2 linked regions of the Homo sapiens genome follow. The protein of the gene in region 1 interacts with the protein of each later gene in a pairwise test. Each region holds a gene or a part of one and is shown on either strand. Other genes may lie near its edges.

The links.
Region 2: the proteins of FNDC3B (region 1) and ERI3 interact in a two-hybrid assay, tested with the Homo sapiens proteins (one large-scale study listed by BioGRID).

The regions. Positions count from the first base shown.
Region 1 is NC_000003.12:172,046,055-172,049,870, forward strand, and holds part of FNDC3B (fibronectin type III domain-containing protein 3B), read left to right. Parts: intron 1-3,816. UniProt on the Homo sapiens protein: May be a positive regulator of adipogenesis.
Region 2 is NC_000001.11:44,352,421-44,357,033, forward strand, and holds the start of ERI3 (ERI1 exoribonuclease 3), read right to left. Parts: upstream 2,838-4,613; 5' UTR 2,607-2,837; coding exon 2,472-2,606; coding exon of another isoform or gene 2,418-2,471; exon of another isoform or gene 2,333-2,417; coding exon of another isoform or gene 2,285-2,332; intron 506-2,284; coding exon 430-505; intron 1-429.

The sequences.
Region 1 (3,816 bases):
CAGAAGGTATGTGGGGTGCCAGTTGAAGATCAGGGGACAGAAATGTTTTTAAAACCACCAAGTATAAATCACATAAGATCGATAGACAGTCGTGATCAGCCATCTACATACAGATGAGGATGTTTGTCAGTTTGAAAATGGATCGATTGTTGAATTTTTCTTTGTTTCTCCCCAGTTAAGATATGCAAGTTTAGCATTCTGTAAGTGTTGGATCAGAATTTCTGATGCCCTTGGCACTCACTACTCAGTGTCAGTTTAGACATTGGCTCCTAATTTTTTTTCTTTTTCTTTTTTAAGATACAGTGTTTCACTGCTGCTGGAGTGCAGTGGCTCTATCATAGCTTACTATGGCTTCGAACTCCTGGGCTCAAGTGATCCTTGAGTAGGGCTATAGCTAGGACTATAGGTTCACGCCACCATGCCTGGCTAATGTTTTTTTTTTTATTTTTATAGAGACAGGGTTTCACTTTGTGGCTCAGGCTGGTCTCTAACTTCTGGCTTGAAGCAATCCCCCCGCTTCAGCCTCCCAAAATGTTGGGATTATAGGTTATGAGCCACCTTGCCCGGCCCTGTTTTGTTTTTATAATATCATTAAAATACCTCATCAGTTTCAAATAACCATTTTGCAGGGTGGTAGGGGATTTTTCTGAGATGGTGTTGAGTCACAGTGTTATTTGAGGTTCTAGTAAGTATCAAAGTGTGTCTTGTGTTAAATGATTCTATTTGAGCTTAAAATGTAATTTCATTTCAGTTACTTGTTTATTGACTCAGAATGCATTTGTTGAGATCTAGACCAGGTTCTTTGTTAATGGAATGTTCTACTCTGTTCTGATGTTTTTGGAATCTTGTATAGAGAACAGTGTCTACCACCAAACTCCTAAGGCTGGATGGTGGTAAGTTCAACTCTTTGCTACCTTCTGAAATTTGAGAAATAGTAAAATTGGAGCACCTTCAGGCTGTGTTAGACTTTAAGGCTTCTAAATTATATTAGAATGTAAGGATACATCTTTGTTTTGACCCTGGAAAGAGTAGTAAAGATTTTCATAAAGGCCAACTAGTCATAAAAACTTACTTAAATTGACATGATCCTAACTCACAATTATGAAAAGCTTTCTGTTGAAATAATTGTGTAGAAAGTGATCTTTATACATGAACAAAGGTGGGATGTTTTAGAAATAATTGAAGATTCTAAGATCCCAGGAAATATAATGGTTTAATTTATTTTTAAGGGATTTAAGATTCCCCATAGCCTATGAAAGAGGGGTCTCTATTAAAAATAACGCCATTGTTCTAGATGTAGCTAATTAGGGATTTGCAATTATCTAGGCAAGGCTAGGATAAAGTTTGGCTGCCTATTCTGTATGAAAAGGTTTTACTGTAAATATCAAGTTTAAATAGATCTTAAGAGGAATATTTACCTAATTAAAAGAACAAACCACTTTTAAGCACCTTGGGAAAATCAATTTACTTAAAAGCAGTGTAAAAATGCAGAATGCATTCACTGATGCTGGTCTGCTGGTGGTCTTTTCATAGAGATACAGGAGCCCCTGGAAAGTCAGTGCTCTCTGTGGATTGCCATGAAATAAATATTGATTGACTCAATGCTATTATGTGAACTACAAACAGTTTACCAGCAATGGGTAGAACTATATTATTTGCTTGCAAAATACATCACAACAATAAACACAATATCTGCCTCCCCCACCCCACTCCACTCTACCAATAGACTCCAACTATGCCTATTTATTGGTTTTGGAGTTTTTCTATTGACATTTGTTTTGCTACTTGTTAACTTCTTTTGTCATGTGTAAGCATTTGATGGCAGATTGGGGACAGCAGGTGTTAAAGGTTTAAGAGCATCATTATTGCTTTTAGCTTCATTTCTTCTGCCTTTGTGTTTGGGCAAGATTGTGGAGAGTCCTGAGTTTAGTATTTAGATAAGGTAATTACATGTCCTTCTCCTCTACTTTTACTAAAGCAAGATCCTCCTGGGCAGCTTAGTTCCAGGTACTGTATGAACTTGCCAGTAATAAGAGTAAGTTTCTTTTAAAAGATTTCTGGATATTTTACGTTTTATACTCAGTCACTCAGATGCGAGGTTTTCTAGTATGTGTCTACTTAGGGGTCAGATTTGACCAGTTTTTAACAGTACAAGTTGTACATATAGGATACTTAATGTATTTCTAGGATATTATGCTTCATTTTCTCTTAGTATTTTAAAGGTTTTAAAAAACCCATTCTATACCTTCTATATCTTTTATTGTTTAAGTCATTCAATGGGAAAGAAAATAATAAAAGTCTTTAGATGCTGTTTCTGATTTTTCGATCATGGTTTTTTTAATCTCAAGAAAAATAATTCTGATTAAGAAATAGAGGTAAACATTATTCTGAAGTAGTGAATTAGAGAATACTTAAATATATTGAGCTGGAATCCTTGTGTATTGCATGTTGGGAATGTTAAATGATAAAGCTACTGTGGAAAACAGTTCTGTAGTTCATAAATATTTACACATAGAATTACTATATGATTCAGCAATTCCATTCCTATTCCTATACGCAAAAGAAAGCAGGGACTCAGGTACTTAAAAGCCAGTGTTTATAGCAGCATTATTGACAATACCTAAAAGGTAGAAACAACCCATGCCCATCAACAGATGAATGGATAAACAAAATATGGTATTATATATTGGAATATTTTGGTACAGTGGAATATTATTCAGCCATAAAAAAGAAGGCAGTTCTAATACATGCCATAACATGAATGAATCTTGAAAACATTATGCTAAGTGAAATAAGCCGGACACAAGAAGATAAATATTGTATATATCCACTTGCATGAGATGACTAGGATAGGTAAATTCATAGAGACAAAAAGTAGAATAGAGATTACCAGGGCTTGGGGGAAGGGAAGATGGAGAGATAGTGTTTCATGGGTTTAGAATTTCTGTTTGGGATGATAAAAAATTTCTGGAAATGAACAGTGGCGATGGTTGTACAACATTATGAATGTATGTAATGCCACTAAGTTGAATGCAGAAAATGGTAAATTTTTTGTTATGTATATTTTATGACAATTAAAAAATGCAAAAGTAAATATTGAAGATGTATCCTACACAGTCTCCATATGCCTCTTTACTCCCCCTTGGTCTGCTTCAGGCAGGTATATAGTTATTTTTTCTTCATCTGGCTGTTGCAGTGTAAATGGAGATTTCCCTAGGCCATTTTTTGGAGATCAGAGAGTTTCCTTATTTTATTAACTGACTTAAATTTAAGAGGAAAATGTTTAAAAGTAGATCTCTGGAGGGGAAAAAAGGGCATTTTAATATTGAGATGAATCAGGGAGTTTGTTAATATTGGCAGACCATGTAAGCACATGAAGATAATCTATCCTGAATAGCACAGCGAGTCATTTAGAAATCCAGTAGTAGGTGTACACTCGGACCTGTCACATTTTCTAACCTTTAAACATTGTTTTTTGTTTCTTTTTTTTGAGATAGAATTTCGCTCTTATTGTCCAGGGTGGAGTGCAATGGCGCGATCTCGGCTCACCCTGACCTCTGCCTCCCAGGTTCAAGCGATTCTTCTGCCTCAGTCTCCCGAGTAGCTGAGATTACAGGCATGCACCACCACCCCTGGCTAATTTTGTATATTTAGTAGAGACAGGGTTTCTCCATGTTGGTCAGGCTGGTTTCAAACTCCTGACCTCAGGTGATCTGCTCGCCTCTACCTCCCAAAGTCCTGGGATTATAGGCATGAGCCACCGTGCCTGGCCTAACCTTTAAACATTTTATTCATTCTTGACATCATTAGTACTGT
Region 2 (4,613 bases), on another chromosome or scaffold:
GATAGATAGATAGATAGATAGATAGATAGATAGATAGATAGATAAATGTTTAAAGCCAAATGAAGATGTTTCTTCCTATTTTCTTAAGATGTGTATTTCTCAGGATAATGGGCTATTCTGGTTCTATTCAACCATCCTGAACCTAAAGTAGGTGCTCATGAGATGCCCATAAAGCAGTTGTGACAGAACTTGACAGTCTGGATCTCCCACCTCCAACTCTTACCACTTTAGAAACTTTAAGTAAGTTTCTACAGACTTTGAGCATATGTTACTTTATCAGAAGAAGCTACAAAAAAATATGATTCGTTTAGACTTTGGGGATACATGGGAAAAAAAATACAATCTGCATCAGCCCCCACCCCCTACCCTCCAAGCCCAAATACTCAGAAGAAAATAAAGCCAGACTTGACCATGCAACAGGATTCTCACCTCTCCTTACTTCGAAGATGCCAAGACCGGCAGCTGGGGATGCTGAAGGTTCTGTGAGAGCTGGAAAGCCCCAATGCTGTGGATAAATACACATCTCTGCAACAAGTCTATTTCAATACCAAGGATCAAATCCCCATGAAGGATACTACACCTCAAACTCTAAACTCAAACTTCGGGATAACTGCTATCTATGTGCAAAGACAGTGCCCCCACAGAGCTTTCAGAAACTATTAGTACTACATTTGTAATGATTTTCATGTTCTCTAGTCATATACTTTTGCTCCTAAGGAGGCTCACCTCCTAGAAACACTAAACATTTACCGAGAAAGATAGCTATGAAGTGGTGCCTCTGGGTAGTTTCAGAATCCTAGTCTAGTCAAGGAGGAAGACACTGGTAAGGCTGACAATATTCAGAACTAAGGAACTAAGGCTGGGCCAGGACTGGGGTAGGGGTTGGTTGCCACAAATCCACAAGCCATACTGAAAATGGCCACATAGACTAGGAAACACTTTCAGGATAGTTCCAAGCCTGCTTCAAGCTCTAAGAAAGTCAAGGTAACTAAATCCCAAGTCAAAACATCAATAGATACCTATCATCCTTTTCAACTAATTCATATCCTCCAAAGGACCAGAAGTTGCAGAGATGCCCCTGTTAGTGATGTCTTTTGCATAAAGAAACACCTAGGGTTGGAACTAATATATTCCTGTCTACCATTCCACACATTTAAGACTTTCTTCTACTCAGATCCCCTGGGAAAAGGCCACTCACCAATTTACCCCACCACAAAGAAAACACTTTTTAAAATGAAAGGGAATAAAAGCACTTTTATTTGGAAATTTCAAGTTGGAAGAAAAGCTCTTAGCCAAGCTCTATGACCTAGCTAGCTGATTATTTACAGGATCTTTGGGCAGGAATTGTTAATGAGCTTTTAATTTGGAGTGCTTAAGTTGCCAAAGTGCTCTGAGCTCCAGTGAAGCACCACAGAATCTATAAAGGAAACCTTATCAATCACTTCCCGGCAGCTCCCTTCCCCCAACCCCCACCTCCTGAGGAAAAGGCAGCCAAGTGGGTTTCTAACCAGGATCACAGACACACATTAGTGGAGTCACACTCCAAGTCCCTGTTTATAAATTGGCTTTTAAATGGTAGGAGATTCAGGTATAATAAACTAAGCTCCAAGCAAGAACCCACTAAAACAAGGCATGCTGTATATGATAAAGTCAGAATAAAGCAGAATTTGATGAAGCCAATTTCTGGAAGAAACTCTACAATCAAAACTCATTTAGCCACTCACAACCTACTATAGTTTGAATAGCGTACACTCTTTTAGCCAATAGGATTCATGTTTTGCTGCCCTTCCGCTGGGAGACTGATTAAATGTCTGACAAGAGTAAATGCCATTGAAGTGGCCAGAGACCTCTCGCAGACACAACGATGGGCACTATTTGTTGCAAAATCCAGCTCTAAGGACAAAATCCAAACCCCCATTGAGGGGCCCCACATCCAGCATCTTCCAAGTCAACAAGGAGCAGTTATATTTTGCAAGAACTCGCAGTCAAGCCTCAATCCAAGTTCATGCTTTTTTTAAGAAAACACCTGTTGCTGGACCATTTGCAAGACAGGCAAACAGAAAGCTAGCCAGGTTAGGCCCTTATTCACTCCTTCCACCATCACTACTACCACCGCTTCAGATTTACAAAGAGGTAAACTGCTAACCTGGTGTGTGGGCATGTGTTGGCGAGAGGGTCAAGGGAATGTTCTACCCACAATCTCCATGCTCCATTTCTAGCCTCTCTAGTCAAACCTTTTTCTTCTCTAGTAATCCCAGTAAGTCAACCCCCTTAATAAACTCACCCATCCTGTCTTGCAAAGCTCTGCCCCGCTCCCCCTCCGCCAGAACATTACTCAGTAGATTAAGTAAGCATCCAGGGTAAGCACATGGGCCAGCACCCCAGGTTGCATAAATTCTGCGCACCGCGACCCTCACCCCGCATGCATTAACCAGGGCCCAATCTTGGCGGGGCCATTCAGCATCACCCACCCCGGGGTGTTGCCCCCAACTCGGGCCCATCCAAGTCCAGGGGAGAGTAAGGGGAGGGGCGGGGGGCCAGGAGACCAGCCCTCCTTCCCAGGGCCGCCCCCGCCCCCCGTCAGCAGCGGGAGAGGCTGTCGCCATGGCAACGCCCCCTCCTCGGGGCCAGCGCGGCAGGCTCCCTCCAGGTGCAGGCCCCGACGTCTCCCTCGGCCTCAGCAAGCGCTCAGGGCAGTTGGCGGCGGCGGGCGCGGCCCGCGCCGACTGCGGCGCCGGCCAGGCAGAGGCAGGGCCAGCTCCGCCCGCTCCCCACCGCCCGTTCCCGGCCGCCTGAACAGCGGCAGCCAGCACCACGAGTCCACAACACACCGACTCACCTCCGCGCACTCTGACCCCGACCGACGCGGCGGACGGGCGGGCGCTGTGGCCAACCGCTGAGCCCGCTGCCGACCCCTTTGACCAATGGGCTGCAGTCAGGCGGGGCTTCTTCTCCCCAAACGCTCGCTCTCCCGCCGACATGCGCGCTAAGGTATGTCAAGATGGTGACTCCCGGCCGCCGGCCTTATGGGACTTGTAGTTTTGACGTTGCACAAACTCAGAAGAGAAGACGGGGACGGGGACATCACTTCTGATCTGTGAAAGGAATTTTTTTAAAATGAAACTTTCTATGGCCTACAGCGATCTAACCAGGATCACAGACACACATTAGTGGAGCCCCCCATCTCCGTTTTCCCGCCCTCCAATATACCCGTAAGGTGAATGTGGGCTCACAACGTGACAGAATTCTATTTACATGACTCCTCATGATTCGTTCATTCAACAAGTAATTATTGTCATCTACTTTCGGATGTGGGCCTGGGGGAGACCTGAGACAAGGAGGGATTAAGCTAAGAGGAAAATGCTTAGATTTGTGAAGGGCCGTCCTAAGGAAGAGGGAACTGGCTTGTTCAGGTCCACTCAGAGGAAACTTCTGTTTAAAAGGTTTCTGGCCTCAGCTGTGAGGAGCTTCCCCAGTCAGTCTCTCCAGTAAGCTGGAGAGACCTGTGTTTCTTCATCCTGGTTATGCCTTTCTGGGTAGTCATGGGTCCCAGGTTATGAGCTGGGAATGATGGCTTTGACAGCTTCCCAATCGGTCAGGACCCCATCCTCTGGGCCCAGCTTCAGTTACCAAGCCCCTCTGTGTGCTGTCTGCATACTTACACTTAGGATGATGTCATTTCTGGGCCCTACCACCTCTGAGAGCGGACCTTACCATAACGGTTTCCACCTGAGCTGAGAGTGCCTGGTAATCCCCATATCAGGGAATGCCTTCCTTAATCCCACCCACGTCATAGGTTAGGTGATTCTGCTGTGGACCTATAGCATTTATCATATTGTCTTATAATTGTCTGTTTCCTTGTTGTCGCTCCCACAGGGTTTTAAGTCCTTTAGGAAAAGCATTTTTTCCATATTGTTCATGTTGTATCAGTAATACACCGCATAGGGCAGGTATAAAGAAGGCCCGCAATAAATGTCTGCGAACAAATGAGGGAATATCCAGCAGCAGGGACAGACTTATCCCGAGGTCAGTAAAGTGGAGGCACTATCCCCCAACTCTTGGAGCTGGAACAGATTCTCCTATTATTACCTACACATTAACCCCAGTTGGTCAGTCAGTCCATCTGTATTTATAGTGCCTCTCTTAAGTGTCAGGCACTGTTTCTGTTGCTGAGGATTCATTGATGAATAACGACACACCTCTATTCTCAAGGAGCTTTTAAATTGGAGAGGGAAGCTGGGTGTCGTGGCTCACGTCTGTAATTCTAACACTTTGGGAGTCTGAGGCAGGAGGATCCTTTGAGACCAGGAGTTCAAGACCAGCTTGGGCAACATAATGAGATTCTCATCTCTACAAACAAGTTAAAAATTAGGCAGGCATGGTGGCACGTGCTTGTAGTCCCAGGTACTCAGGAGGCTGAGGTGGGAGGATCACTGGAGCCTGGGAGGACAAAGCTGCAGTGAGCCATAATAAATAAATTGGGGAGGGGCTGTAGGAGGAAGAATAGATAATAAAACAAGTAAATATAAAAATAAGACAAGAGGCAGTGAGATAGCTTTGTTATATACTGAGTTATGGCCTGAGAGTAGGGCACAGCCAATCTTCTTGGCTGT